Homo sapiens: one gene and its partner. The gene in region 1 interacts genetically with each later gene. Each region holds a gene or a part of one and is shown in the gene's direction. Other genes may lie near its edges. The genes, in order: MET and CHEK1.

Region 1 (3,825 bases):
CTGACACTGAGTTGCTGCTAGATCCACATTTGCCTGACCAAAAATAGCTAGGACCTATAGGTAGAGTATCATATGTGCTAGGTACTACAGCATTTTCTTTAAAAGAAAGAAATGGAATCTGCCCTTGAGAAGTTTATGATCTAGATACACAGACAAATATCACATATTAAATGAACACAAATTCATAATTATTAAGAGGACATCACATGAGAAACGCTTTCAAAATCATCCTATTTGCTATGAAATAATAGAATTTTTTTTTAAAAATCAAAGTTTGGAACTTAAAAACCTTAACATTTTCAAGCTGTTTCTGCATACATCACCTTTCTGATACCAAAACGACCTTACAAGATAGGCAAGTCTGATAACATCTTAACATTCTTATGTTATAGACAAGGAAACTGAGCTTGAGACTAGCTCCATGCTATTTCAATAGCACCATACCACCTTTCCTCAGCCATCAACTATTGGAAACATTTTCCATGGAGGCATCATTAGGGATGCTTAAGATAGTGGTAAATGATGAATATAACATATCTAGTCCCTGGAGTTTTTGTCACCTTCTCTTTCTCCAGTTCTCTCTCTCTTTTTTTTTTTTAATTTCTTTTCTTTTCTTTTTTTCTTTTCTTTGTAGTGAGACATACCGAGAAAAGGTTTCATTCATATGTGTGGGGCATTCTGCTCCTGTTATCAGATTAAGAGCCGTGAATAATTTTGTAATCTATCCTTCTATCAGAAAGCCCATTCTCAGATATCTTTTCAGCTGTGTTAAACAGGTTAGTATATTCCGCTTGGGATTTGTTTCAATAAAAACATCCAGTAAAATCTGACTACTTTGCTTTTCATGGGACAAAATGAAAAAAGTGCTTTTATAAGCTGTAAAACTTAATTGAGAGAAAAAATCACGTGTGGCATTTGTAGCAGGAGGTATGAGCTCAGTGAAATAAAAAAGTTAACTTTGTAATCACATACCCAGGTACACATATTTCTCTCTGTGATTGCATAAATGTGTGCAAGTATGTTTATGTAGGTTACTCCCATTGATTTTAATTTCTATAATAAATTATGTAGCTATAGGGCCCACAGGCGATTATATAATGGGCAATAGAATTTGAAAATGTATCTCTCCTAATATAATTAAGGATAGCAATTATGAAATGTGCTTAGAGAATCACAAGTTATCGTGAAAGCCAGGTTCCTGTACTCCAAGAATGTGAATGAGGATTTAGTCATTCATTCAGGACAATTTTTTGACAACCTACGAGGCATAGTTCTAAAATCTGGCATTTCCACAGAGTATAAAACAGATGAAAACCTCTAACCTCATGACACTCTGTTCTATTGAGTTGGCAAACAATAAAGAAATACATAACTGAAATGTGTTGTATGTCAGGTGATGATAATAGCTTCAAGGTAGAATAAAATGGAAAAGAGAATAGTGACTGTCAAGGATAAGAGAGAGTGGGATGGTGATTGAAAAACTCAATAGTGAGGTCAGGGAAGGCTTGTCTTCAAAGGTGGGCTTTGGGCTAGAATCTGAAGGAGATAAGGAAGTGAGCCAGGCGCATATGAGGAGCACTTCTCAGGAGTGCTATTCTCATCTTGTTTTTCCTGAAATTGTGCAGTTCACAGCTTGCACAACTGTCCATAGACTCCCTGATTTTGGAGGGAGATACCTGAATAGTGCCCCTGTTTTTGTAGGGAAATACCTGGACAGTGCCTGCCATCATTAGCTACCATGTTAAAGATGAAGATACAGGAGTGGCCCACATCTCTTGGTTTATGAGACATGGAAGAAGAAGACCCAGAGTGTTGTTTTGTTTTTTTTTTTGTTTTTTTGTTTTGTTTTGTTTTGTTTTGTTTTGCATCCGCCTGGTCCCATCCCATACTCCATCCTCTATCAGAGATATTGCTCCATTCAGACAATTTTCCTTCTTATTTTCCACACTGTGAGCCTGTCACAGTGGGATTTGTTGAGAAGGATACCCATGGCTTTTTTCACTGATCCCTTCCATAGTATAAATCTAAAGACAGCAAGAGGCAGTTGCTGATGGTGTGCAGCTTCTGTCTGCTATGCACTTCTTTCTTTCCCCCTCGCTCTCCTTCCTTTTCCTTTCCAGTATTAAGTCACTGCATTGGATTTTCTTCCTCTTTTCTTCCTTTTCCCTTATTCCCCTATTTATATCCTGTATCAAGATTTGCAAACAGGTAACTTAAATGAGGAAAACTAACCATTTCACTAGGGATTGACAAACTGCTTAGGAAAAGCAGAGGGGCAGTCACTGCTTGGCGTGATTAGAGCTGTTGTGAGGCTCAGTGTATGGCATGGGCCCATGTGGTAGTATCTTTCAGATTTTCAAGAGAAGCTAGGACTCTCCCAATTTTAAAATGTTGACTCAGTGTCTTTAAAACACCATACAGCTTACAGTGGCAGAAAGTCTGCAAGCCAGATTGGGCTCCTGATGGTCCCAATTGCAGCAGCATGCATGGCCCGAGAGCCCCAGGACTGCTTCTACAAAATATTTTATTTTCTAAAATTCTCAGAAAATTAACTAAACAAATTTTTTAAAACCAATATTTTATGTCAGTTCCTATTGGCACGTGGTTATTTTTCTAAACTCATCAGCCCACATACTTTACATCAAACTATGTACGTTTCTAAACTAAAGGGTAATCTAGTTATTTCATTCTTAAACTGAAGTAGTAGTTTTCTGAAACCTGAATCCATCATGGCTTTATGCATCAATTTCATTTCCAAGTTCTCTGATTCAGGATAAACTCCCCCTTTGGAATATTGTCTTTCTCTCTCTCTCTCTCTGTCTCTCTCTCTCTCTGTCTCTGTCTCTGGAAATGACTGAACTTCACCCGTTGTTATTACCCTGCCATTGAAATTCAAAACATGCACTGCCCTCCTGGTTTCCAGTGCCCTTTAAAAGCAATCAGATCAGTGTTAAAATCTATTTTTCCAAAGGAATAAAAGCTCACAGGTTGTGCACTAATTTGTTTCCTTTAATCCTAAAATCTCAGTGAAATGCCCAAGCTAGCAGCCCTCCAGAAGGCCACTGTGTTAGAAAGGGAGATTATGTACTGTATTTCTTCCTACTATTTTAAATGCAAATATAATAATATATCATGAAACAGTGCACATACAGTATACATATTAAGATCAGTGGTCTATTCCTGTTTTGAAATGGTCTCCTACTCCTTAATAGTTGGAATTCTGAGGCAGCACCTAGACTCTCAGGTCCAATTTGAAAATGTATGTTTTTTTTTAAAAAAGAATGACTTGGGGAATAACTGTTTGATAAGACCGTGGAAGATTTCTAATTTTTAATATTTTATTAAAAATGTAAAGAAAGACATTCAAAGCTGAGACCTTTGAAATAATATGGTCTTTGCAAGTCAGAGAAAAAGAGAAGTGGTAAATTTATTAGAGATAGGTTGCCTCCTTTGAGGCCTAATCATGTGGGAAAGGAAAACCCAGCCAAGGTTTGGGTCCATAAGACAATTCAACCTAGCTTTAAAAATAGGTTTTGGCTTTGCTTGGGACCAGCATTGGGACCAGAGTGTATCTAGACCAGCATTTTAGCTATTAAATTTTAAACCTAGGGGTCTTTTAAGGGAAATTTAATCCATGTGTCTTTGATTCACTAAATCTTAAATCATTACTCACAAACTGTATGTCCCTCTAAGCTCTTTGATGTCCAAGAGATCTCTAAAATTGTGTAAGGCCTTTTTGTTCCAGAAAAAAATAGGAAGTTGGTTTTTGCTAAGCGTCAATAAACAGCATCCTCAAAAATCTGATTAGGTCTAAAATCTTGCAAC
Region 2 (3,825 bases), on another chromosome or scaffold:
TGAAGCGGTAGGTGTTTTCTTTCCCATACCCTCATGTCCTTTGATCTGGACATGGTACAGGTGTCCTCCTTATTCTTCATTGTCACTTTCTCCCATCTTCCTTTATGTCTCTCCCCTCTAACTTTTGAACCCCAAATTAAAATTTCTGCCGTACTATCACAGTCTGCAAAATGACTCTTGATGTTATTTTCGTCATGATTCTTGGTGATTTAAATATTTATTTGGATCATCCTCCTGATATCCTGACTTCACTGTTTCTTGACCCTCTCTCCTATAGTGATGTTGTCTTTGAACACGCTGCACTGATCACCAGTATAATTTTTTCTGACTTCCTCCCTTAATATTCTAACTTAAACAGTCCTTTGTATCTGGACTTGCAATTAATTAATTCTATCTCTTCAGTCTCTTACCTGCTCCCTCTCTAGGTCCTTGATTTCATCTTTACCTATCTTAAATCTTTAGGTTAGTCATTATAAATGACTGCTTTGCGTTCATCATCTTCAATTTCCTTGTCCCCTTCTCTCTTCATCATACTTAGTGGGTAAAACCCAGTAAGTAGTTTCTGGGTTTAATCTAGTAGTTTTCTACGTACTGCACACTTGTACCTGCACAACAGATTGCAGCAGGAGAAAAATACCCAAAAATGTTCACTTTAAATTCAGGATTACTAATCTCAAGTGGGCCCTTAATGCTTCCTGGCATTTGGCCTTCGTTTCCCCACATCTTTCTCTGTCCTGTTCTCCTAAATCACGTTTTTATAATACTTTTCTCTTTTTTTTTTTTTTTTTTTTGAGACAGGGTCTAGGCTGGAGTGCAGTGGCGCCATCTCCACTCACTTCAACCTCTGCCTCTCAGGTTCAAGCGATTCGATTCTCGTGCCTTAGCCACCCGAGTAGCTGGGATTACAGGTGTGAACCACCACACCTGGCTAATTTTTATATTTTTAGTAGAGGTTTTGCCATGCTGGCCAGGCTGGTCTCAAACTCCTAGCCTCAAGTGATCCCCCTGCCTCAGCCTCCCAAAGTGCTGGGTTTATAGGTGTGAGCTACTGTGTCTGGTCCCTTAACTTTTATTATCTTCTCTCCATCCTCACTCTCAGTTGTTCACTTTGCTTCCTGTGTCACTGGGAAATGAAAGCCACAAGAGAACTTAGGCAAGCTCCCACCACCATCTCCTCCATACTAACTGCCTCTATGCTCATGTATTCTCTTTCATCCTGTATTGCTGTAGATAAATTGCTCTGGATGTAAGCCAGGTCTTTCTCTTACCCACTCAATGACTTTGTCTAGCAATTTTTCTCCCTCTCCTACATTATTAATTTTTCCTTCTCTACCGGATCTTTCTCATCAGCATATCTACATGCTTTTTCTCCCATTTTAAAATCAAATCATAATGGTAATAAAATTTCTCTTAACTCCACTTTTCCCTACCATTCCATCTTCTTCACAATTGAATATTCCTAAAATTGCTTCTCATCTCTAACACCTCAAAACTAGTTTTCAATTTCATCTATTTTGTTGCCAAGAGTCACAGTGATTTTTGGAACGTGTTGCCAAGTTCAATGTAATAGTCCACTGTGGTCAACCGAGGTCTGAAAAGATTAAATGGAAAGTACCAGAAGTAAACAATTCATCAATTCATGGGTTTTGGCCGGGCGCGGTGGCTCACGCCTGTAATCCCAGCACTTTGGGAGGCCAAGGCGGGCGGATCACGAGGTCAGGAGATCGAGACCATCCTGGCTAACACGGTGTCACCCCGTCTCTACTAAAAATACAAAAAATTAGCCGGGCGAGGTGGCGGTCGCCTGTAGTCCCAGCTACTCGGGAGGCTGAGGCAAGAGAATGGCGTGAACCCCGGGGGGCGGAGCTTGCAGTGAGCCGAGATCGCACCACTGCACTCCAGCCTGGGCAACAGCGAGACTCCGTCTCAAAAAAAAAAAAAAAGAAATTCATGGGTTTTATTTATTTATTTAATTCGAGACGGGATCTCGCTCTGTCGCCCAGACTGGAGTGCAGTGGCGTGGTCTCCACTTACTGAAACCTCTACCTCCTGAGCTTAAATGATCCTCCCATCTCAGCTTCCCGAGTAGCTGGGACTACAGGTGTGAGCCACTATGCCCGGCTAATTTTTGTATTTTTGGTAGAGATGAGGTTTCGCCATGTTGCCTATGCTTTTCTACCAAAAATACAAAAATTAGCCAGGTGTGGTGGTTCACGCCTGTAATCCCAGCTGTTCTCAAACTGCTGGGCTTAAGCAATCCACCCACCCCGGCCTCCCAAAGTACTGGGATTATAGGCATGAGCCACAATGCCCTGCCATAGGTTTTAAATTGTGTGCTGTTCTGAGTAGCATAATAAAATCTTGTGCTGTCCTACTTCATCTCACTTGGGATGTGAATCACTCCTTTTTCCAGTGTATTCACGTTCCATGTGCTACCTGCTTGTAACTCCCTTAGTAGCTGTTTTGGTTATTAGATCGAAAGAACATATATAGGGTTTGGTACCATTTGTACTTTCAGGCATCCACTTGAACATATCCCTCTGTGGATAAGGGGGGTACTACTGTAGTCAGTTCTCAGACCTCTTGTTTTATCTCATCAATATTTTATACAGTTGATCATGCCCTCCTCCTTTAAACACTTTCTTCATTTGGCTTCCAGGCGTTACACTCTTCTGATTTTCGTCCTTCTCACTGGTCGCTCTTTTCAGTCTCTTGATGGTTTTTTTTCATCTGCTCAGCCTCCTACTATTGGAGTTCTCCAGGGCTGAATCTATGGATCTCCTTTGTTTTCTTCTCCACACTCACTCCATTAGTGATATTACTTGGTTTCATGGCTCTAAATAAAACTATATGTTGATAGTCACATTTATATCAACCTAGACCTTTCCTCTGAATTCCAAACTTACATGTCTTAACTGCCTTCTGAAATTTCACTTGAATGTTAAGAGGCATCTCACACTTGATGAATTCCAAACTGAGTTACTGATCTTTTCCTTTCAAACCCATTCCTTTTCAAAGTCTTTCCCATGTTGGTTAATGGCAACTGCATTATTCTTATTATGCAGATCAGAAACTTTGGAATCATCCTTCATTTTTCTCATTCTCTTTTACTTCACATCCAGTACACCAGCTAATTCTGTTAACCTCTATCTTTAAAAAAATCTTAGAATCTGATTACCTTTTTTTTTTTTACCTCTACTGTTACCCTATCATTCCAAATTACCATGATATCTTTCCAAAATGTTCTGATTTAAAAGTGAATTAGAATATATCACTATTCTACCCAAATCCTCCAATGCTTTAGTTCTCACGTGTAGTGTAAGCTAAAATCAGTTCATGACCTGTGAGTTCTTACACAATTTTGTTCCTTACATTACCTCTCCAACCTCAGTTCTGCTTTGCTCCCCCTTGGTCATATTGTTGTTCTTCTTATTGTTCTCCAAGTGCTCTAGGCACACTTCTACCTCACTGTTTTTGTAGTGACTGTTCCTATGTCTGAAAATGCTTTTTCCCATGGGACTTATTTGCATGTCTTATTCTCTTACTTTCTTTGGATATTGACTTCAGTGTCATCTTTCCAATAAGCCTTTCCTGGCCATGCTATTTAAAATGGTATCCTCTTCCCTCTAACACATTTCTTAAATTTTTAAAATTTTTACTCTCTTGTGGACATACGCAATCCAACACGTTTCTTCATTTTATTTTCCTTCAGTGTACTTACCACCATTTAGCTTACTGATTTTTAACTGTATTTGTATTTATTTTATGTTATTTTGTCTCTCCTCAGTAGAATGTAGGATTTAAAAGGTCAAGAGTTTTTTTTCT

The links.
Region 2: changes in MET (region 1) and CHEK1 together harm fitness more than expected from each alone (negative genetic interaction), as found in Homo sapiens cells (one large-scale study listed by BioGRID).

The regions. Positions count from the first base shown.
Region 1 is NC_000007.14:116,675,169-116,678,993, forward strand, and holds part of MET (hepatocyte growth factor receptor isoform b preproprotein), read left to right. Parts: intron 1-3,825. UniProt on the Homo sapiens protein: Receptor tyrosine kinase that transduces signals from the extracellular matrix into the cytoplasm by binding to hepatocyte growth factor/HGF ligand. Regulates many physiological processes including proliferation, scattering, morphogenesis and survival.
Region 2 is NC_000011.10:125,638,612-125,642,436, forward strand, and holds part of CHEK1 (serine/threonine-protein kinase Chk1), read left to right. Parts: intron 1-3,825. UniProt on the Homo sapiens protein: Serine/threonine-protein kinase which is required for checkpoint-mediated cell cycle arrest and activation of DNA repair in response to the presence of DNA damage or unreplicated DNA.